Regions from separate parts of the Homo sapiens genome. Here all the other regions are linked to region 3. The links come from fine-mapping of genetic effects on gene expression. A gene starts in region 3. Each other region holds a variant in brackets. All regions are shown on one strand. Distances are from middle to middle.

Region 1 (8,184 bases), 75 kb after region 3:
AGGGGCAGGCAGTGATGATCTGACAGATTTTCCTTGTTTACAAAAGTTTGCTTCAGGTGTTCCAGTGAGCTTTCTGAGTAGTCCATATAGCAGCAGGCCCGAAGGTTATCTCTACATAGCTGTTGTAGTGATTTCTCTGAAGTCTGTATCAAGCCATCTAATTTCACCTTGCAGGGCTTCAGAAAAAGGGGTGCTTTAATTTTTAGTGATTCCAAGCCAGAAGACTGGGATAAAAATTGGAAATATTCGTTTGGTGAGTCATAGCCAGATATTGGAAGAAACTAGAGAAATTCAGGATCCAGCACAGATTTCAGGTGGATAACAAACTCTCAAAAACAATGAGCTAGCATCTAATACTGGGTGCACTATACTTTTCTTCTGAAACAAAATTTTTCTCTCTATAGTCACCTTCATCTCTATCAAAGATAATCAAAGTAAAACTAATTTGTTTGCAAAATAAATTTAGTTTCATTAAACTTGACCTGATTATTTATACAAGTTCAGCAAGAGTAGTGATTGGCCACATAGGCTGTCTTTAAATTTGCTTTGCTGGAACGTTTTATAAGGAATCTCAGATTAGACATTGAAAAGCCTCTTGAGGCCAGGAGGCCAAGCTTAAGATTCACCATTAAAATTCACCTGAAGTGGCTGGGCATGGTGGCTCATGCCTGTAATCTCAGCACTTTGGGAGGCTGAGGCGGGCGGATCACAAGGTCAGGAGTTTGAGACCAGCCTGGCCAACATGGTGAAACCCCGTCTCTACTAAAAATACAAAAATTAGCTGGGCGTGGTGGCGGGCGCCTGTAATCCCAGCTACTCGGGAGGCTGAGGCAGGAGAATTGCTTGAACCTGGGAGGCGGAGCTTGCAGTGAGCCGAGACTGTGCCATTGCACTCCAGCCTGGGGGAGAAGAGCGAGACTTCGTCTCAAAAAAAAAAAAGAAAAAAAAAATTCACCTGAAGTACTTCTAGATTTTGCTGAATTCCTCTCTGCTTTAGGTCCCCAAAATATCCTGAGGTTCCTGGTCCTGCCAGGAGGTGACATTCTTTACCTACCTCTAAGGCAACCATATGAACGATGCTTTCAAAGTACCAGGCCAGTTTATCCAAGCGCGGGCTTTATTGGCTCCATAAAGTCAACCTTAGTTCTTTAAAGTTGTCTGTCATATTTGAAAATAGAATATTCCAGTCAAAGCCTTGGTAAGGTAACATAACCAGTATTTCCAATTGTGCCCTGTTACAAGGAGAACAGATTTTTATTAAACTAGTATAAATAATTATATTGCCATAAAAATAAGAATACTCACAAATAGTTTCTGAGTCCTAGCAGGATCAGGTAGGAAGAAAAAGTAATTGTTCCAATTCTGTTCACAAAAGTATATGCTACCAGATCTCTGCAAGCTCTAGAAAGCTTAAGAGAAATAGTTTCTTTAAATCTGTAAAAGGAAACATTTACAATAAGAACCAAATTTCAAATTTAAAAATTTCAAATTAAAAGTCATGAAAACATTACCTTCATCAGTTCAGTTTCACGTAATTAATTCTTGATCTGCTTGATCTTGCTTGGCAGTTTCATGAAGCCATTCATTTCTTCATTAGAGTTCTGAAAATTCTCACACAGTCCAATGGTATGATCTTATGGTTATTAGAAACCTGTATTCAAGGGTATTTGTCAAAGTCTTTTCTATGAATCTTTTCGAAGAAAAGCAGTTTTGGACTATCGCTGATTGCCAATACTTTTAGACAAAAATCAAAACAGTAATGGCCTGTAGATGACAAAGACTTAATATGGCCATGGTTAAAAATCTGATGAGAGTTCATTATAGTCAGCAGTTGACAAGGAAATTTAGTTATTTCTGTGGATACAACATTTTAACATAATTGCCAGAATTGTTACTGATAACATTAGACTTTTAAAAATCTCACATTTTCATATCAATAATACGCTCCTAAGTATAACTCTAGGTTTAGCATTACTCATTATTTGACCACACTTACTATATAATTTAATGCATCAAATATATGTAAGCCCAATTATTTTAATATCTTTCTTTTACAAGGTGAGAAAAACACATATTTTGTAGCTTTCAAGAGGCCTAACTGGTAAATCTCAAAGTAAGTTCAAGGTCAAAAAGACTTAATTTAGAATTTGATTTTGGGAAGTATGTCAAAATGTCAAAAGGTTTAAAAAAATTAAATATGATATTGGCTATCTAATTAAAGTGACAGTTTTAAATAGAAAAACAATTTTCTATTTTTTTTAACATTTTTTTAGAGACAGGGTCTCACTCTGTCACCCAGGCTGGAGTGTAGTGGCACAAGCATAGCTCACTGCAGCCTCAAACTCCTGGCTTAAAGCAATCCTCTCACCTTGGCCTTCTGAGTAGCTGGGACTGCAGGCATGCGCCACTGCACCTGGCTCATTTATTTTTATTTTTATTTTTGTAGAGATGGAGTTTTGCAGTATTTCCCAGGCTGGTCTTGAACTCCTGGGCTAAAGCAGTCCTCCTGCCTTGTCCTCCCAAAGCACTGGGATTACAGGTGAGCCACTGCACCTGGCCGACAACAAAAGATTTTAAAGGCAAATACAAAAGGTTGCATAGTTGTGAATAAAATGTAATCAAAGACCTAATAAAATACAGCATGAAGCCCAAAAATGATCTTGATAAAACACAAAATCTTTGTTTTCTAGGTCAGTTACTGAAAAGGAGAAAAAAAAAACCTTCACATTCTCAGACCAATACTTCTAGAAAACTTTGTTACTTTAACAGAGAAGACCAAATTCCACTTTTGCATTAGCGTACTATTAATACTAAAGCTAATTTTAAATAAAATCTTTTAATAAATTCATCCAATCTTAGTTTTGATCACAAAAGATAACATTTCCATAAATCATTTAAAACTTAAAAAAAATTCAGCCTTTTTAAAAAACAAAAATGTGTCATTTACATAACTTTCCTTATCAAATGCATCTTATTTCTAAGCAAAGAAAGTTTTCCCTCATATTTTCTGGCAGTTTAATTACATATGTTAATTATAACGTTTAACTCTTAGTAACCTTATTTCTTTTTTTCTTTTTTTTTTTTTTTTTTTTGAGACTGAGTCTTGCACTGTCGCCTGGGCTGGTGTGCAGTGGCGTGATCTCAGCTCGCTGCAACCTCCGCCTCCCAGGTTCAAGTGATTCTCCTGCCTCAGCCTCCCAAGTAGCTAGGACTACAGGCACGCGCCACCATGCCCGGTTAATTTTTGTATTTTTAGTAGAGACGGGGTTTTAGTATGTTGGCTAGGCTGGTCTCAAACTCCTGACCTCGTGATCAGCCGGCCTTGGCCTCCCCAAGTGCTGGGATTACAGGCGTGAGCCACCATGCCTGGCCAGTAACCTTAATTTCTAGTGAAAACTAGCAAGCATTATAAACTCTTTTATAACAGCATTCATCATTTCATAATTTCTAGAAGCAATTTTTCATGTTTTTAACCAACTTCAATCTATTTAGCTTCTCTGTACTATATAAAAACAAGATGCCAAAGTACATAAACTTGTGCCTAGTAATTAGTGTTTCAATATTTTTAACTTACTTAGAAGTGACCCAGATATTTAATAAGTATCTATTACTTAATTTCATTTTAAGGTTTCAAGTTACCAAAAAGATTTTAAAACTATTTTTAACTAGACATATTTTCTAAAACATAATTGTTATTGAAAAACTTTGCTTATAAACTATTATCCTACTTATATTCATCTAATTCACTCATTCTTTTTTTTAAGTTTCAAGTTTTAATTTTTGTGGGTATGTAGGTGTCTATATTTATGGGATACATTAGATACTTTGATATAGGCATGCAATCCATAATAATTACATCATGTAAAATGGGATAGCTTTCCCCTGAAGCATTTATCCTTTATGTTACAATCCAATTATGCTTTTAGTTATTTAAAAATGTACAATTAAATTATTATTGACTACAGTCACCCTGTTATCAAATACTAGGTCTTACTAATTTTTTCTAACTTTTTTTGTACCCATTAACTCTTCCCACTTCCCTACAAGCCCCCTTCCCAACCTCTGGTAATCATCCTTGTACTCTCTATCTCCATGAGTTCAACAATCGTTTTAATTTTTTTTTTTTTTTTTTT[G/TG]GGGACAGACTCTCGCTCTGTTGCCCAGGCTGGAGTGCAGTGGCACAATCTCGGCTCACTGCAACCTCCGCCTCCTGGGTTCACACCATTCTCCTGCCTCAGCCTCCGGAGTAGCTGGGACTACAGGTGCCTGCCACCACGCCCAGCTAATTTTTTGCATTTTTAGTACAGACGGGGTTTCACCGTGTTAACCAGGATGGTCTCGATCTCCTGACCTTGTGATCCACCTGCCTCAGCCTCCCAAAGTGCTGAGATTACAGGCGTGAGCCACCACACCTGGCCAATCATTTTAATTTTTAGCTCCCACAAATAAGCGAGAACATGAGTTTGTCTTTCTGTGCCTGGCTTATTTCACTTAATACAATGAGTCCCAATTCCATCCATGTTGTTGCAGATAACGGGATTTCATTCTTTTTTATGGCTGAATAGTACTCTATCATGTAAATGTACTACATTTTCTTTATCCATTCATCTGTTGAGGGACACTTAGGTTGCTTCCAAATCTTAGCTATTGTGAACAGTGCTGCAATAAACATGGGAGTGCAGATATCTCTTTTTTTTTTTTTTTGAGATGGAGTCTCGCTGTGTCTCCCAGGTTGGAGTGCAGTGGCGCGATCTCGGCTCACTGCAAGCTCCGCCTCCCAGGTTCATGCCATTCTCCTGCCTCAGCCTCCCAAGTAGCTGGGACTACAGGCGCCCGCCAACACGCCTGGCTAATTTTTTGTATTTTTAGTAGAAACGGGGTTTCACCGTGTTAGCCAAGATGGTCTCGATCTCCTGACCTCGTGATCCGCCCGTCTCGGCCTCCCGAAGTGCTAGGATTACAGGCGTGAGCCACCGCGCCCGGCCCAGATATCTCTTACATATCCTGATTTCCTTCCTTTTGGGTATATACCTAGCAGTGGGATTGCCTGATTGTATGGTAGCTTTATTTTTACTTTTGTGAGAAACCTCCAAACTGTTTTCCATAGTGGTTGTACTAATTTATATTCCCACCAACAGCATACAAGGGCTCCCTTTTCCCCAAATCCTCTCCAGCATTTGTTGTTGCCTGTCTTTTGGATAAAAGCCACTTTAACTGGAGTGAGATGACATCTAATTGTAATTTTGATTTGCATATTCCTGATGATCCATGATGTTGAGCCATTTTCATATGCCTGTTTGCCATTTGTATGTCTTCTTCTGGGAAATGTCCATTCAAATTTTTTTTCCCGGCCAGGCGCAGTGGCTCACCCCTGTAATTCCAGCACTTTGGGAGGTCAAGGCGGGCGGATCACCTGAGGTCGGGAGTTTGAGACCAGCCTGACCAATGTGGGAAGCCCTGTCTCTACTGAAAATACAAAATTAGCCAGGCATGGTGGCACATGCCTGTAATCCCAGCTACTTGGGAGGCTGAGGCAGGAGAACCTCTTGAACCCAGGAGGTGGAGGTTGCAGTGAGTTGAAATGGTGCCATTGCACTCCAGCCTGGGCAACAAGAACGAAACTACATCTCAAAAAAAAAATTTTTTTTTTTGGCCAATTAAAAATACGTATTCATTTAGTTTTTGAGACAGGGTCTCACTCTGTCACCCAGGCTGGTGTGTAGTGGCACAAACACAGCTCACTATAGTCTTGACCTCCCAGACTCAAGTGATCCTTCTGTCTCAGCCTTCCGTGTAACTGGGACCACAGGAGTGTGCCCCCATGCTTGGCTATTCTTTTTTTATTTTTTTTTAGAGACTAGGTCTCACTTTGTTGCCCAGGCTGGTCTCACACTCCTGGGCTCAAGCGATCCACCTGCCTTGGCCTCCCAAAGTGCTGTGATTACAGATGTGAGCCACCATGCCCAGCCTTGCCCATTTCTTAATTGGATTGTTAAATTTTTGCCTATATAGCTGTTTGAGCTCCTTATATATCCTAGTTATCAATCCATTGTCAGATGGGTAGTTTGCAAATATTTTATCCCATTTTGTTGGCTGTTTCTTCACTTTGTTGAGTGTTTTCTTTGCTGTGCAGAAGCTATTTAAGTTGATGTGGTCCCATTTGTCCATTTTTGCTTTGGTTGTGTGTGCTTGTGGCGTGTTACTCTTAGATTTGCCCTTTTGAGGCTATTTTCTAGATCTTGTAGGCATGCTTCATTCTTTTTTATTATTTTTGTCTTTTGTCTCCTCTGTGCATTTTCGTGTAGGCTGTCTTCAAGCTTACTAATTCTTTCTTTTATTTGATCATTTCTGTTGGTAAGATACTCTGATGCTTTCTTCAGTATGTCAATTGCATTTTTCAACTCTAGAATTTCTGCTTGGTTCTTTTAAATTATGTCAATCTCTTTGTTAAGTTTATCTGATAGAATTATGAATTCATTCTCTGTGTTATCTTGAATTTCTTTGAGTTTCCTCAAAGCAGCTATTTTGAATGCTGTGTCGGAAAGGTCACATATCTGTTTCTCCAGGATTGGTCCCAGCACCTTATGTAGTTCACCTTATTTAGTTCATTTGGTAACTCACTCATTCTTTTTTTTTTTTTTAAAATAACTAAGTGCTTTTATTTTATTTTTTGATTTTTTTTTTTTGAGACGGAATCTTGCTCTGTCATCCAGGCTGGAGTGCAGTGGTGCAATCTTGGCTCCCTGCAACCTCTGCCTCCCGGGTTCACATCATTCTCCTGCCTCAGCCTCCCGCATAGCTGGGACTACAGGTGCCCACCACCATGCCCAGCTAATTTTTTGTATTTTTAGTAGAGACGGGGTTTCACCATGTTAGCCAGGATGGTCTCGATCTCCTGCCCTTGTGATCCGCTAGCCTCGGCCTCCCAAAGTGCTGGGATTACAGGCGTGAGCCACCACGCCCAGCCAGTAACTCACTCATTCTTAACAATTTTATGTGAACTGTTCATGACAATTTTATGAGACATCAAACAAAGCTAACCTCTGTCTCAAGTTGTTTTTGTTGTTGACAAATCAGGCAAGCAAAATATCATAGAAGCAAAGAAACAAGAAAGTTAAACATGGTTCTTTCCTCTTTTTTTTCTCCGTGACTGATGTGCATCAAGCAATTCAGGAATTCATTTTTACTGTGTATTCTGTTTGAAGGTTGCGTTTATAATTTTATGACCTTAACCATCTAGCAGAGACAATACACCTGTCTGGCCAGCAAACGCAGGCAAAAATATATGTCTGTATTATATTTAATGACATAAACATACAGATAGAAGCAGATCTTACATCTTTTACTCTAACACTTTTAGCCTTGCACCAAGTCTGATAATTCAAGACTCACTAGCTAGACCTGATAAATGATACAAGTTAAGATTATCTGCTCAGATGGCTAAAGCTTTTTTTTTTTTTTTTTGAGTTGGCGTCTAGCTCTGTCACCCAGGCTGGAGTGCAGTGGTGCAATCTCGGCTCACTGCAACCTCCGCCTCCCAGGTTCAAGCGATTCTCCTGCCTCAGCCTCCCTAGTAGCTCGGTCTACAGGCGTGTGCCACCACGCCCGGCCAATTTTTTGTATTTTTAGTAGAGACGGGGTTTCACTGTGTTAGCCAGGATGGTCTCGATCTCCTGACCTCATGATTGGCCCGCCCTGGCCTCCCAAAGTGCTGGGATTACAGGTGTGAGCCACCACAGTTGGCCTGGCTAAAGCTTTTTTACTAGTTTTTTTGTGGAAAAGGCTTTTAAGATTTTTTATTTGACCAATTTCTAAACAGTTCAGTTTTTTTCTTTTTGATGACAGTCATCTCCCTGACAGTCATCTCTTCTGTATCTATGGATTCTGCTTCTGTGGATTCAACCAATCAGGAATTGAAAATATTGTTTTAAAGAGCACGCATCTCTACTGAACATGGACAGACATTTTTCTTGTCATTTTTCCCTAAACAATATAGTATAACAACTACTTACATAGCATTTACATTATATTAGGTATTATAAGTAATCTAGAGATGATTTTAAGAATATGGGAAGATGTGCATAGGTTATATGAAACTACTATCTTATTTTATATCAGGGACTTGAGCATCCATAGATTTTGGTATTTGTGGGAGGTACTAGAACCAATCTCCTGTGGATATCAAAG
Region 2 (8,184 bases), 32 kb after region 3:
TAAGTATGCCATGTAGCTTTTACTATTCATAAGCCTGAATTTTTGCCTCAGTATCCCTGCCCAGAATCTGGGTCTTCCCTGTAAATGGATGCTGCCTCCCAATTCTCTAGCCCCACACAGGATTTTGCCAGTCCCCTCTCTTGCTGTTCCTGGCACACTCCACCTTTCATTTCGGGTTCTGCTAGCACCACTCAGAACTGTCACCTGCTTTCCTTTTAGCTGTTTGCACTCCACTTGCCAACGTCATCTCCACCCTGAGATTGTCATGTCCTTATGATTATGTGCTTTGACCTATCTACCAAGTGGCTCATGGCTGAGCCAGCCTCTGTATCCATTTCCCATAACCCCATTCTCTCTGGTCCTGGTTCCATCCCATCAGCTTGTGTGCGTAGAATGGTACCCCATATTTCCTGCTTCCTTTAGCATTTAGGCTTTTTATACAGACTCATTGACCTGTGGCAACTCTAGATTTTTCTCTCTAGAAATGTATTGGGTTGGAAAGGGGCAAGTGGATAAGCTTGTTTTGAAGCTGCAGTTGCAGAGCAAGATTGCTGGTTTAGGTTTTGTTTTTAAATTTACGTCATAGGCTTACTTGGGTTGGATTTTAGGGGAAATTATCTGTGCACGTGGGGCCGTGGTCACAGGCCAGTTGGATACAACTTCCCAGCATCAGTCCTTCACTCAGCAAATTGTTACTGGTTTTATGTGGGCATTGGGACCTGTGGTTGTCTATCTGAGGTTTGTTGGGTGGTTTGCAAGCAGTGGTTGTCAAGTTTTCAGTGATTCCCTATGTGTATTTTCCGTTGCTGTATACCTCAAACTTAACAGCATCAAATAACACACATTTATTATCTCAGAGTTTCTGTAGTTTTTAGACTTTTAAAATTGCAAAATGATACAAGCTCATTATAACAAGTTTAAACATTGAGAAGTTTACAAAGTACAAATGATACATATGTCCTCCTTACTCCCCTCTATTCTGACTCTCCCCAGAAATAACTACTGTCAACTGTTAAGTGTATCCATTCCGATTTTTTCTATGCTTAGATGAAGACACATTCACACTCATGCACCCACTTTTTTCCCCACTTTTTTTTTTAAAACAAAACAAAACAAAACAAGAATGGCTCTTACTTAAATTAGGCAGGACTCTTGTTTGCAAGTGATAGAAATGCTGTGTGAAATATCTTAGGCAAAAAGAGGAATTCACTGCCAGAAGAATTTAAATCACAGGACTCTCTCTCTCTTTTTTTCTCTGCTTCTGTCAGATCAGCACTGTCCACAAGCTAGAACTGTGGTCACCAGGAGCTGCCTAGCTGACACCCTCAGGCTTCCCCATACGGAGAGCTTGTTCCTCTGCCTTCTTTTCTACATAAAATATTCCCAAGGAGGTCTTCAATTGGCCTCATGTATCATGGGCTGGGTGCAGTGGCTCATGCCTGTAATCCCAGCACTTTGGGAGGCCGAGGCGGGCGGCAGATCACCTGAGGTCGGGAGATCGAGACCATCCTGGCTAACATGGTGAAACCCCATCTCTACTAAAAATATAAAAAATTAGCTGGACGTGGTGGCACATGCCTGTAATCCCAGATACTCAGGAGGCTGAGGCAGGAGAATTGCTTGAATCCAGGGCGCGAAGGTTGTGGTAAGCTGAGATCGTGCCATTGCACTCCAGCCTGGGCAACAAGAGTGAAACTCCATCTCAAAGAAAAAAAAAAAGTACCTTTGCTGCAAGTAACAGAAAACCCAATTAAGAGTGACTTAAACAATAGGGGCTTATTCTTTTCACAGAACAAGATATCTAGAGGTAGTTGGTCATTATGTGGCTCAGTTGTGCCTGCATTCTGGGTCAGCTTCTCTGAAGCTCTCTAGGTCTTGCCCCCTGGTTGCCACATGGATAAGGCAGCTCTAAACACCATGTCCTCACTTGACAATGTCTTTCTTTTTTTCTTTTTTTGTTTTGTTTTCTGAGACAGGGTCTCGCTCTGTTGTTCAGGCTGGAGTGCAGTGATGCAATCACAGTTCACTGCAGCCTCAGCTTCCTGGATCAAGTGATCTTCCTGTCTTGGCCTCCCTAGTTGCTGGGACTATAAGTGCACACCACCATGCCCAGGTAATTAAAAACATTTTTTTAGTAGAGACAAGGTCTTGCTATGTTGCCCAGGCTGGTCTTGAACTCCTGAGTTAAAGTGATCCTCCCAAAGTGCTGGGATTACAGGCATGAGCCACCAGGCCTGGCCAGCAATGTCTTTCTTAATGTGGCTTCTCTCAAAAGCAAATTCTGAGACAAAAGCTTGTATGCACTGACTTGGGGAGGTGACTGCAGGGCGTAGGGGCAGGGATCAGGGCGGGGAGTGGGGGAAGCAGGGAAAGAGGGGCGGCTAATAGAAAGGTTCATTACTGAGCTGGACAGTGCCGTGAGTAACTGGTGCTAGATTTTGCTGGGACCTCCTGGGGGGCCTTGTGCAATGCATCTCAGAACTGTCAACCTGGGGGATCAAAGAGGGAAGCATTTTTCTGTCAATACTCACTCCTCTAACTAAACAATATAAGAAGGAACATAATTTCCACTTAGTGTTTATAAATATGTAGTATACATAGTTCATAGCTGCATAGTATTTTGTTATAAAAGTGAGCCTATTCTTTTGTTAATGGACATTTAATTCACAGCCCTGGTTTTTATCAAGTTGCTATAAACATCGAAAGGGGCGTGACTTTGGTGAGGGGGTCAATACCAGGACTGAGGACTCCTGTTTTATCCCATTTCAAGACTTTGGCTGGGTGAGGTGGCTAATTCCTATAATCCCAGCATTTTGGGAGGCCGAGGTGGAAGGATCACTTGAGTCCAGGAGTTCAAGACCAGCCTAGGCAACATAGCAAGCTCTTGTCTCTAGAAATTATTTAAAACTTAGCTGGGCATGGTGGTGTGCACCTGTGGTCTCAGCTACTTGGGAGGCTGAACTGGAAGGCTGCTTGAGCCTGAGAAGTCGAGGCTGCAGTCAGCCGAAATTGTGCCACTGGACTCCAGCCTGGGCAACAGAGTGAGACCACCATCTCAAAAAAAAAAAAAAAAAAAAAAGAAGACTTTGGCACATTAAAAAATATAGCAATATTTCATCTTGCTAAAACAATTATTTCACACTAACCTATTCAGAACAAAAATAGAGAAGAGGTAAAAATAGTTTCTAAGTAGCCAAATAGATGACAGACAGTCATGCATTCCAGATGGAATGGGCAGTCCTGCCTGCAGCGTCACTCTGGTTTTGTCTTAAATCTCATACACTTCACTTGTAAGTATCTTGTATCTTTATTAGGATCTCACTTTACCTCATTTTACTTACAAGTTTAACTAGATTGGTATCCTAGTTACTATTTTCCATAGCAAAGGAGAAGAGGAAGGAAGTTGTTAAAGGAAGTCACACTGACAAAACCAAAATTTAAAAAGTGACCACTGAC[A/C]ACCACAGAGGAGGGAAAAACAAAACAAAATAAAACAACAGCAACAAAAACCTTTTAAAAATGACATAAATATGCAAAGAAGATTGGCATTCTATCTGCTCTACAGAACTGTAAAAAACTCTGAGGTTCACAGCCAGAAAGAATGGTTAAAATTGCACTCAGAGTACTCTCTAAGAGGCAAGGAAATGAATAATTTATTCCATGCTATTATATCTTTTCATGCAGTATTGACTCGGTATGATTATTCTTTTTCTGTAATATATTTTAGAGAGATTTCCCAATAAGTAGGTTTAAAATGATGAAAAAAGTTGATTCTCGCTTGAACCCAGGAGGCGGAGGTTGCACTGAGCCGAGATTGCTCCATTGCACTCCAGCCTGGGCAACAAGAGTGAAACTCCATCTCAAAAAAAAAAAAAAAAAAAAGTTGATTCTCAAAGCTCTAGGGAACTTCACTTTCCAAACAACCATTTTCCATGGACTTTTAGCCAAGAAATTTCCTCCAGCAAGACAGGTGGGGAGCCATGGGGAATGGCTTCTCTGCCCCTCTGCACGAGGGGGCGGTGTCTACCAGCCTCCTCCTCTAATTTAGGCCAGCGGTGTCCAGTCTCAGGAGGGCACTTTGACAATCACCTTCAGCCCTTGCGTGGTGATGGCTTCAATTGGGGAGGCAAATGTAGAGTCTTTCCTCTGCCTTCCTAGAAATTTCTGGACATGTTAGAGGTGAGCTAGAATGCAAAGGGTAAGAAAATAATCCTTTTTCAGGAAGAAAGGAATTTGAGAACTTCTTCTACAAAAACTATAAATAACACACGTGCCATTCATGCCTTGTGTAGTTTGTTTTATTATTAGTAAACAGTAATATCCCAGCAGTGACATCAGCTAACCAGAATATTACTTTGTGTGTGTGTGTTTGTGCACTCACGTGTGTGCAAGTGCTTGAATTTAGCTAATAGTGTGGGACAGATCCTTTTTTTGGCCTTGTTCGAGAATCTTGTAGTCCATGCACCAATCCTTATATCTCTAGTGTTATTACTGTTATTAACTCTGTCACTCCATTGTGTCCATTCACTGTCTTTTCTTCTTCTATTTGTCCTTTTTCTTTGTTTTACGTGCTATGATAGACACAATAATGACCCCCAAAAGGTGTCCATGTCCTCACAACCAGAGCCTGTAAATGTTATGTTACATGGCAAGGGGAATTAAGGTTGCAGATATACTTAAAATTGTTTATCAGCTGGCCTTAAAATAAGAAGATTATCCTGAGTCCTTAAGTGGATAAAGTAGAGGCAAAAGAGTTAGAAACAGAGAAATAGCATTGTGAGAAAGAACTGCTACTGATGAATTTGAAGATGGAACAAGGTCCCAAGCCAAGGAATGTGGCAGCTGCTAGATGCTGGAAAAGGCAGGAAAACAGATTCTCCCCTAGAAGCTCTAGGAAAGAACACAGCTCTGCTGACACCGTGGATTTAGCTCAGTGAGACCTATTTAGAACTAACCTCTAGAACTGTAAGACAACACATCTGTGTTGTTTTAAGCCACTAAGTTTGTAGTAATTTGTTATACCAGCAATAGGAAACTAATACACATGCTTATAAATTGCATTTAAGAAGTATTTTCCAGCTGGGTGCAGTGGCTCACGCCTATAATCCCAGCACTTTGGGAGGTTAAGGCGGGTGGATCACCTGAGGTCAGGAGTTCGAGACTAGCCTGGCCAACATGGTGAAACCCCGTCTCTACTAAAAATACAAAAATTAGCTGGGTGTGGTGGTGGGCACCTGTAATCCCAGCTACTTGGGAGGCTGAAGCAGGAGAATCACTTGAACCCGGGAGATGGAGGTTGCAGTGAGCTGAGATCACGCCACTGCACTCTAGCCGGGGCGACAGTGACTCTGTCTCAGAAGAAAAAAAAAAAAAAAGAAGTATTTGCCGCCAGATGTGGTGGCTGATGTCTGTAATCACAGCACTTTGGGAGGCCGAGGCTGGTGGATCACTTGAGGCCAGGAGTTCGAGACCAGCCTGGCCAACATGGGGAAACCCCCGTCTCTACTAAAAATTACGTAATAATTAGCCGGACGTGGTGGCACATGCCTGTACTCCCAGCTACTCGGGAGGCTGAGACATGAGAATCTGTTTGAACCCAGGAGGTGAAGGTTGCATTGAGCTGAGATCGTGCCACTGCACTCCAGGCTGGTCAACAGAGTGAGTCTCTATTTCAAAAAAAAAAAAAAGTATTTACTTTGTGCTTAACATTGTGCATGGGGGAAGATACAAAAGTAACGTAAATGTTGTGACACCTTCTCACAAGCTGTTGATATTTCAGAAGATGAAATAGGATTTTATTTCTGTTACATGCCATTAGCTATCATGTGATGCTCATAGTTGCCTAGGTAAATACTAATTCATCTAGTCATCTACATTTATTGATTGCCTTCTCTGTGCCAGGCATTGTGCATACAAAGATAAGCAAGATATAATGATGAACAAGATATGGTTACTTAATATAAACCAAGAAAATTCTTCATGTCCACTACCACCCAGTCAGCTTTTCCTGCAGTCTTCTCCCAATCACCCAATTCCTTAAACTCCAAATCTACAAAATAGAGCTGAGGTTTTCAACCAGTGGTGTCTGTGAGCGTCATTGCTGTGGTGGGCATTATGTGGCAGATAAAAATACAATACCTGGATCTGTCATAGTAAAATTGTGAAATGTTCAGAAAGAAATCACAATGAAAGTAGTATATATTAAAACTGTGGAAAGCAGCCAAAGTGGTATCTGAATAAATATGGAGCCACTCTCTTTTGTTGTTAATTTATTATTGTATCATATCATAATCAAACAACATGGTATCACCCATATGAAATCAAACATTTTTTAACTTGCTGAGATTTCTTTTGTGGCTTGTTTTTTTCTAAAATTTTCTCACTCTCTAAAGCAAGGTAAAGAATTATATAAGGAGCTTTTACAAAAAGATCTATAGCAGTAGTCTGCCAGAAAAAAAACTCAACAAGTTAAAAAATGTTTGATTTCATATAGGTGATATGTTGTTTGATTATGATGTAATACAATAATAAATTAACAACAAAAGAGAGTGGCTCCATATCTGTACATTTGGAGACTAACAAAGCACATCCCTATGTAATTCTCTGGATAAAGAGACAGTCAAAATAAAATTGTGAAATGTTCAGAATGAAACCACAATGAAAGTAGTATATATCAAAACTGCGGAAAGCAGCCAAAGAGGTATCCAGAAGGAAATTTGTAGGCTTGATTTTTTATTAGAAAATGAGAAAGATTCAAAATAAAGTACTCAACTCAAGATAGAAAAGGAACAACAAAAATAAATCCCAAAGAGTAAATGAATTTACAGCAGATTAAAGATAAAAGCAAAATTAATGAAGCAAAACAACCTTCATAGAATTGGTTAATAAAACCAAAAGTTTGTTTCTTGAAAAAGATGAAAAAAGCAAACAAACTTTGGTTGTGATAAACATACAGTATTAGCATTAGTGGTAGTAGCAGTAAGGAAGCATGTATATAATGCTCTGTGTCAGAGACATTCTTTACCCACCAGAGATGTGTGTGCATCCATACCTTTCCAGTCATTCTTGGTTGAGTTCGATGCTGGTGATTGAGCTACAAGAGGAGTGACACGTGCCATATCTGAACCAAACCATTTACAAGCCTGTGTGCAATCCTTCAGCTCCTGTCTTTCTCTGCAGCTATGATTTGGAAAGCCATGTGCTGAGACAGTGAAACCATTGGATGGATGCCTCCTGGTTTATTGAGTTCCCAAAGAGAGGACAGATGCTAGGGAGTGCCCAATTGCCATAGCACTCTGTGTGAGCAAGAAATTCAACTTTGTTAAGTCACTGGCTTTTTTTTTTTGTGAGATGGAGTCTTGCTTTGTCGCCCAGGCTGGAGTGCAGTGGCACGATCTCGGCTCACTGCAACATCTGCCTCCCAGGTTCAAGCGATTCTCCTGCCTCAGCCTCCTGAGGAACTGGGACTACAGGCATGTGCCACCATGGCCGGCTAATTTTTGTATTTTTAGTAGAGTTGGGGTTTCACTATGTTGCCAGGCTGGTCTCAAACTCCTGGCCTCAAGTGATCCACTTTGGGACGCCTTTGCCTCCTGAAGTGCTGAGATTATAGGCATGAGACCCCCCACTGGCCCTCACTGGCCCATGTTTTAATGTAGCATAGCCTCTCTTATCCTGATTAATTCATATTTTGTAAAATGTGTTCTTTCGAGAGTACCTCTCAGTTATTAGATAAATACCTATAACTTAACAATTTAATTTTAAAGTTAAAATGTAGGAAGAGAGTAGAAAAGGAAAGATAAGCCGAGCTCTTCAAAGTTCATTATTTTTCCTGTTTGTTGACAGGCAAACGTACTGAAGTCCCAATCAGTTACAAAGACCTAATAGGCCACATTATGCGCATCCACAAATACATATATACCTGCAAGTCTGTAGAAAAAAAAGAGTTTCCAGCCACCTCTTGTATTGTTTTCTGTTTAAAACATTTTTCTTAATTTGTTAATTCACTGTCACTTTAGAAAGATAGTAAGACGAAAGCATCAGCTCTTTCTAATCTCTTACTTCAATAAACTATCATTGTGCTTTATCACAATTCACTCATTACAGCATATTTCCATCAAAATAAGAGAATGAAAATAAAACAAAACCAATGTCTGTGCATCAAATTACCTGTAACTGAATTTGACC
Region 3 (8,184 bases):
TTGTAGCTTCTGACCCACTGTATTACATATAGTAATAATAAATAATTTAAAAAGTAACAGACCAGCTGGGCGTGGTGGCTCACGCCTATAATCCCAGGCATTCAAGACCAGCCTGACCAACATGGTGAAACCCTGTCTCTACTAAAAACACAAAAATTAGCCGGGCGTGGTGGTGCATGCCTGTAGTTCCAGCTACTAGGGAGGCTGAGGCAGGAGAATCACTTGAATCCAGGAAGCAGAGGTTGCCGTGAGCTGAGACTGCATCACTGCACACCATCCTGGGCAACAGAGCAAGACTCCGTCTCAAAAAAAAATTAAAACAAAAGAAAAAAGCCTTGTCAACACTTGAGCACTTGACACTTGCACAATGCCTGGGACTTAGTATGTATTACTTTATAGTTAACCCCCACAATTCTGAGGTAGTTGTTCTACACTGATCAGAAAGGAAAGTGAGGTATTAAGAAGTTAAGATAACTTGCCTAAGGGCCCACAGGTAGGAAGTTAAAATAAAGCTTAAGGGACTAGCTATCATTAGTTGTAGCCCTAAGGTACTTTATGTTTATCTCGCAATCTTATGAAATAAGTAGTAGTATTCTAATTTTACATATAAGGAAACTGAGGCTGAGAAAGATTAAGAAACTTCCTTCAGGACACAAAATTCCTTTAGGGTGGGTACAGGATAGCAGTGGCAATGCTTGGATTCAGACCTAGGCCTATGATTCCAAACCTCATGCTCTTTCAACTACATTCTCTGTCACAGTGAGTGCCAAATAAATATTTGAATTACCATAAACTGCTGTCTCAAGTGATACTGCAGTACAGATGAGTTTACACATGGGTAAGAAAAAAAAAAATCCTGCATTTTTCCATCTTGACATCTCATTACATTCTTAAATTTAGATTTGAGCTCTATTCAATAAAGAAGCCATCAAAGTTACACCATATATCAAGATATTTGCAAAACTATGTCACAAGCTGGCTGTAAACAAGTTTATGTAACTCATATCTGATAAGCTATTTATGGAATAAATGAAATTATAAATTTCGGTAATATATTGTAAGCATTAGGTTAAAAATAATTTTCTGTTATAAAAAGTAGAATTTAAAAACACGTGAGGAAGACATACTTGGTTTTACTATAACCCCATAACCATACTGTATCCAAACAAACAAAACCAAATGTCTTAGAATGAGAGAGAAATAAAGCTACTTCTCTATGAAGAACCCAAAATTTCTAATAATGAGACCTAATCAAGAATATGAGTTTCAGAAAGTAGAAAAAGGTGCCATTTTTATGGATCAGGTGTCTAAGTTTCTTCAGGCTCTTTATGTAAACAAAAAAAAAATCATTCAAAACAGGTAACACTTAAGTTTTAAATTCCCAAAGAAGTGTTCTTTTAACATTCTTCAAGCAAACTCTGTCAAGTAATTTATTAGCTTTCTAAATGTAGGTGTTCATGAAAAAAAAAAAAAGATTCAAGCAGATCCAGCTGTAATTTTTATCCATGGCTGGAACAGTGCAGAAGTACAATTTAGTAACATGTTCCAGGTGAATGTTCAAGTATTAATGAATACAAGTTTGAAGTTTCACCTGGAATTGCTAAGAATCACAAATTATGAATGTATAAATAATAAAACAGGCCGGGCGCGGTGGCTCACACCTGTAATCCCAGCTACTCGGGGGGCTGGGGCAGGAGAATTGCTTGAACCCGGGAGGCGGAGCTTGCAGTGAGTGAGCCGAGACCAGCCCACTGCACTCCAGCCTGGGCAATAAGGGCCAAACTCCGTCTCAAAAAAACAAATAAATAAAAATAAAAATAAAAAATACAATTTAAAATATCTCTCGGGCAAGACTAAAGAAAGAACTTATCAGTAAACTTTTTTTTTTTTGAGATGGGGTCTCGCTGTCACCAGGCTGGAGGGCAGTGGCGCGATCTCGGCTCACTGCAATCTCCACCTCCTGGGCTCAAGAGATTCTCCTGCCTCAGCTACCCTAGTAGCTGGGATTACAAGCACGCGCCACGACACCCAGCTAATTTTTGTATTTTTAGTAGAGACGGGGTTTCACCATGTTAGCCAGGATGGTCTCGATCTCTTGACCTCGTGAGCCGCCTGCCTCGGCTTCCCAAAGTGCTGGGATTACAGATGTGAGCCACCGCACTCGGCCATCAGTGAACAATTTTTTAAAAATCTCACAAATGAAGAGTCATATATTCTTTCTTTTTTTTTTTTTTCTTTGAGACGGAGTCTTGCTGTGTCGCCCAGGCTGAAGTGCATGGCACGATCTCAATTCACTGCAACCCCAGCCCCCCGAGTAGCTGGGATTACAGGCGCGTGCCACCACACCCGGCTAATTTTTGTATTTTTAGTAGAGATGGGGTTTCATCATGTTGGCCAGGCTGGTCTTGCACTCCTGACCTCAAGTGATCCGCCCGCCTCGACCCCCCAAGTGCTGGGATTACAGGCCTCAGCCACCGCGCCCGACTTATATTCTTAACAAGAAAAAAAATTCTACTCTACTGATAGTGGCTTGCGGAACAACATAAAGGAAAAATGGTAAGCTACCATTATCAATACTATAATTTTTTCAGTGCTCGGAAATAAAATCATTTCCCCAATCTTTATAGAAAACCTGCCTTTATTGCCTCTTCTTAATTTTCTTGGAAATGACAAATTGCCAATGTGGTCTTTTAAAGAGAAGCAATACAGCAAAGCACGTTTTGGAAAAGTGACTAGAATACAGAAAAATAAGACAGTGCTTCTGCTGCCAATCAATATTTGTTCTTAACCAGAAGGTTTGTACGTATCAATCACAATGCAATCATACAGTGACAGACAAGTATTTTTAAAACAAACTTGTTCGTCTTTTGCACCACCTAAAATAACTGTTCGGGGCTTTACTTTTAAATCACGAAATGAGCCATAAATGTAAAAGATTTCAATAGGCAGCAATCAAAAGTATCTTCTACTAAACCTTCAGAAGTTAGACGCCAGCTGAGGTTAGAATTATAACTTGAGATGGTATTACAAACTTAAATAGGTCATACCGCACGTCCTTCAAAAACTGTCTTTTAATTTTTAATGTGTCAATGACTTTTCTGCTGTCCTCTTTTCCCAACAGGCGAAGAAAAAATACAGCTTGTGGCTTAAATTGTCAATCTCAAGACGGGGGTTACCTACTGCATGAGACAAATAATGGATACTTTAATGTCTATTTTTAGTAGTAGTATTAAATCAATCTCTCATTAAAGTTCACACAGAAATTCGTGGGAAATATGGTAGGGGGAGTGGGACGGAGGGTGAGGGGAGATCCAGATGACCCAAACGCGGTTGGCAAGGTTGCACCCCGCGAAATGATGTAAAACAAGAGTACATCGGCTGATACTCGTTCCAACGAAGTGTTTCAGAATGATAGATCTCAAGTGATGATTACCTTATTAAAAAGGGTTAAAACCGAAACTGTTTTCAAACACCAGCTTCCCTTTTATAAGATCCCAACAGTTTAAAAAGTTATTATAAATGTTTTTCTTAGCACCCTTTCTCCCAAAAAGCATGCATTTCCATGACTGACTTTAAAAAAAAAAAAAAAGCAAAGGGGTGAGGGAGTCAAAAATTCCCCCCAAAAGCACAAGCTCTCATCTCTCAACTAAGCAACACAGGGCAGAAAGCAGCATTTCCTCAACGGTGTAGGAGCGGGGGGGAAAGGGCACGAATAAAATACAGCACGAGAGGAAACCTTGGGTTTCGAACTTTATTGCACAAAGAGTGGAGAGAAGAGTAGGTCAGACGTTGCAGCTCTTCCCCTTGCGAAGCGGGCATGGCAGGCACCGAAGCCACCGGGAAGGCAGCAGGCACCTTCACCTCCTCTGCCCTCAACTGTCGCCTTCTTCCTCCTCCATCCCCCACCGGCACCTAGGCGGCGGCTGCCCCGGAGGCCCGGCCGGGTCGGGCCGGGGGCGAGGCGGGCGGCGGGGGCCGGACGAGCGAGCGGCGCGGGGGGCAGCGCCGGGCCGAGCGGGCGGCCTCCCCCGGGGCGGCTCCGGGTTCCCGGCTCCGCGCCCGGCCCGGCGGCGGCGGCGGGAACGCGGGCGCCAGCTCGCCGCGGCCGGCCGCCCGCACACACCCCCGGCCGCCGGCTCCCACCCCGCCCGCCGCCCGCCGCCCGCCGCCCCCCGCCATGAGCGCCGCCGCTGGCTGCAGGCAGAGTCGCTGCCGCCCCGGCCGCCGCTGGCTCCAGTCCGCCGCCATTATTCTTTGTTCGCTGCGAGCGGCGGCGATGTTGTGGGGCTCGGGCGGAGGCTCCATCTTTACCGCGGCCCCTCCTGCGAGGGGAAGGCCCCAAGCGCGGGTGTCCGGCGCCTCCCCGTCCCCCCTCCGTCCCCCCGGCTCTCTCTGGCTCCTGCCTCCTCCTCCTGCTCCTCTTACCGGTGGTACAAGCTCCTCCGTCACTGCTTTCGTTCACGGCCCGGATCTCGCTGGAGTTTTATTCTCTCCCCCACGTAACACACCGCGTCAAACTACACCTCCGCCGCGTCACTCACCAACACTCCGCTTCTCCCAGCCGCCCGGGCCACAGGCAGCAGCAGCCGCCGCCGACTGAGGAGCCGCAGCCAGGGAGCCAGCCAGCGCCGCCCAGTGCCGAGTGCGCAGCGGCCGCGCACGGAAACAGCCGAGCTAGGCCCGGAGCAGCTCGAGCGGCCCCGCCCCCGCGCTGGGGACGGAACTTGCCGAAGACCTTCGGGTTTCTTCGGGCGACGAGAAGGGGTTCCGCGGGGAGAGGGAAGGCGAAGGCGGGCTGAGCCCGGCGCCGGGAGGAGTGGTCTAAACTCCACCGCGGCTTTCGCATCGGTAAAGCCGGCAGCGGAAATTTGAAGGAGGAAGCGGGGTTTGTGTGTGGCCCAGTGGGGGAATTCCCGAGGGGTGTCGGCGACTTGGTGGAAACCCCCGCTCAGGCCTGCCCCTGCGGCGGTGAGCGGCGGGCTAGAAGGCGGCTGCGGCTGCCCTGGCTCTGCTCTTGACCGCCGCCAGCCCCGGGAACTTTCCGACGCCGCCGGGAGACGGGGGACGGGCAGCCCGGGCTGGGACGCGGCCGGACCGCTGGAGCCGTGCGGGCTGGGGAAGAAGGTCTGCTGCGCCTCTGCCAACGTCCCGGGGCCTGGGACCCGGGGGCGTCGTGGGACCCCCGTGGGGACGGGTTTTCCTTTCCGAGACTCCGCGGAGAAACCTGGCGGCCGCCAGCGGAGCATGCTTTTCCGGGGGGCGCTGGCCCCGATACTGTGGCACCTTGCGGGGCTCTGCCCGGACCATGGCTGACGTCGACGGCCCTCGGAGGCCTCCAAGCCACACAACCTGCCCGGACCCCTGGAAATATGCCCCATCCTACCTCCCCGCCTTTCTCCAGACAACATCCTGTGTCGCTTTCTTTCCTCAGCCTGTTTTCTACAGCAGGGATTCGCACCCACTGCACCCTAAACCCAGCAGGGGGACTTCCGTGGCTGGAAACTACTGAATTGTTCTTTCAGAGGTCTCTCAGGACGGCACCACTAGGTCCCCATTCTCCTTGATAGTGAACTCTGCAGCCCTCTCCTTGGGGTTTCAAGTCTTTTTTTTTTTTTTTTTTTTTTTAATGAGACGGAGTCTAGCCCTTGTCGCCCAGGCTGGAGTGCAGTGGCACGATCTCGGCTCACTGCAACCTCCGCCTCCCGGTTTCGAGCGATTCTCCTGCCTCAGCCTCCCTAGTAGCTGGGATTACAGGCACCTGCCACCACACCTGGCTAATTTTTGTGTTGTTAGTAGAGACGGGGTTTCACCATGTTGGCCAGGCTGGTATGGAACTCCTGACCTCAGGTAATCCACCCGCCTCGGCCTCCTAAAGTGGTGGGGTTACACGTATGAGCCACCGCGCCCGGCCTCAAGTCTTAATCATTCTTTTTCTGTCCTTTAAAGGAGACGTGTCTTTAGGAAGCAGAGAGGGTTCGATTCTGGACTCCGCCCATGACTCACTTCTCTTGTAAAGAAAGAGTTGTCCTTCCTGGTACTCCAGGTACCCTACTGTTTTCTTATGGACTTTGCCCTTAACGAGTCTCCTTTCCTTCTGTTACTCTCAACCTTTCCTTCTCTACCGGCTCTTTCTTACTGGTATTTAAACATGCTTAAGTCTTTCAATTCTTTAAAAAGATTTCTCTTCTCCCTAAATTGCTCTCCAACAACTGCAGCTGTCTCTTACCCCATGGACAGTCTTTCATGTCCCACCTCCCAGCCCTCTCCAGTGTCCCCACCGCTCACCTGAAGTGGCTCTGAATTGTCCACAGACAAGCTTCATGACTGTAAATGCAGCGGATCATTTTCAGTCCTCATTTTACAAGCCCTCATCCCAGTATTTGACGCGATTGACCACAGTTGCTTCCAAATACCCTCTTCCCTCTGGTCTTATGTCCCAGGTTTCCTCCCTACCTGAGTTTGCTCTTTAACAACCAGCTCCTCCTTGATCTACCTCTTACACATTGGAATCATGCTGAGCTGAACCCTGGCCCTCTTACTGAGTCTCCCCATACACTTTCCTAGGTGGTCTTATGCTCTCCCAGCAGCATCAAATACCCTCTGTCAAAGACTCTTCAATCCATAACTCAAGCCTAGATCTTGCTCTGGAATCCTACATTCATAGTTCCCAGCATACTGCCTTTGGTACACTTTCATTTGGATGACTTAGGGCATTTCAAACTCAACCCGTATATCATAATTCCTTCAAAACGCTCCTCCCATAGTCCCTGGTTCAGTAAAGGGTATCTTAACATCTACCCAGTTCATGCCAGAAACCTAGCACACCTCCAACACACAGCAGAATCACCTACATCTGTCTGCTCCCTGGAAAATTGGATTTGTGACCTCTCTCTGTTCCCATGACCATTTTTTCATTCCCATTCTAGTCTAAACCACTGTTGCCTCTTGCTTGAAGTCCCACAGTAACCCATTCAGGTCCTCCAAAACTGCTCTTGCCTCGTTCCAATACATTTGCCATACTGCTGCCAGAGTAATTTTTTAAATATAAATCTGATCATTGACCTGCTTAAATTCCTCCAGTGGTCTCCCTTTGCTTACCACACATTGTCTAAGCTCCATTATCTGTACTTGTCTTTCTCTCCAGCCTCTCCATCTGTCCCCCTAGCTGCCTGCACTCCTGCCATAGTATTTTAATTTTTTCCAGGCTCTCCTCTTTTTATTCCCTACTGTAGGCTCTCACTTCAGGGCATTTACACATGCCCTTCCCTTCCCCTGGAATTTTTTTCTGTCACCCATTCCTCCTACTTAACTGTAACTTATCACTTTCTTTTCCAATTCCTACTTCTCATTATTTGTTTAGTGTCCATGTAATTGTGCAGGTAAGGACCACGTCTGTCTTGTTCACTACCAGCTTTTCCTCTCCCTAGCAACAGCACAATGTCTAGAATATAGTGGTACTTGTTAGGTATTTATCGAATAAATAGTGAATTTCTGAGTGGTCCCGGGCAAAGTTTTCTCAACATTTGAATTCAAATCCTGGCTCTCAGTGAGTTCAGGTTGCCGTAGTAAAGTACCATATAGACTGGTGGCTTATAAACAACAGAAATGTATTTCTCATAGCTCTGGAGGCTGGATATCTGAAATCAGGCTGCCAACATGGTCAGGTTCTGGTGAAGGCCCTCTTCAGGGTTGTAGATGGCTGTTTTTTCCCTTTACCTCACAATGCAGAAAGAGAGCAAGAGCTCTCGGGTTGCTTTTATAAGGCACTAATCCCATTCACAAGGGGTTTACCTCCCAAAGGCCTCATCTCCTAATACCATCACATTGAGGGTGAAGATTTCAAAAATACGAATTTGCAGGAGACAGGGGTGGGGGTGAATTCATTGCACTGGCTCAGCCACTTATTAGCTAATGACTTTGGGCAAATTGTTCACTCTTGTGCCTCAGTTTTCCCATCTGTAAAATAAAGATGATAATAGCACCTCATAGTGTTATTGTAATGATTACGTGACATAATACATGTGAAGTATACTTGGAACAATGTTAGGAAAAATGTTGCCTATTACTAGCTTTTACTTGGATAGCTTATCCTCGTGTCAAATACGTTTTCAAAATTGAGTTCATCTTCCTGCTCTTCTTACCGTGGCTCTATACATGATATCAAAAAACTTTGGAATTATTTAC

The links.
Region 1: its variant is fine-mapped to the expression of CREB1 in whole blood (INTERVAL, PIP 0.98).
Region 2: its variant is fine-mapped to the expression of CREB1 in whole blood (INTERVAL, PIP above 0.99).

Annotation. Positions count from the first base shown.
Region 1 is chr2:207,451,673-207,459,856 of GRCh38, reverse strand. No RefSeq gene overlaps it. Among named protein-coding and RNA genes, the nearest start is that of CREB1, 74 kb to the left of the region's middle. The variant G/TG (reference allele first, on the strand shown) is at 4,134.
Region 2 is chr2:207,494,459-207,502,642 of GRCh38, reverse strand. No RefSeq gene overlaps it. Among named protein-coding and RNA genes, the nearest start is that of CREB1, 31 kb to the left of the region's middle. The variant A/C (reference allele first, on the strand shown) is at 3,457.
Region 3 is chr2:207,526,376-207,534,559 of GRCh38, reverse strand. CREB1 (cAMP responsive element binding protein 1) reads right to left here and starts at 4,598. Exons shown (of 8, transcript NM_004379.5): 1 at 4,426-4,598. It overlaps LOC124907970 (a long non-coding RNA gene), which reads left to right and starts at 4,963. Exons shown (of 3, transcript XR_007088060.1): 1 at 4,963-5,124; 2 at 5,947-6,043. RefSeq lists enhancers at 1,880-2,379, 2,380-2,881, 4,470-4,569, 4,830-5,029 and silencers at 3,290-3,459, 4,170-4,219, 4,250-4,379, 5,050-5,229.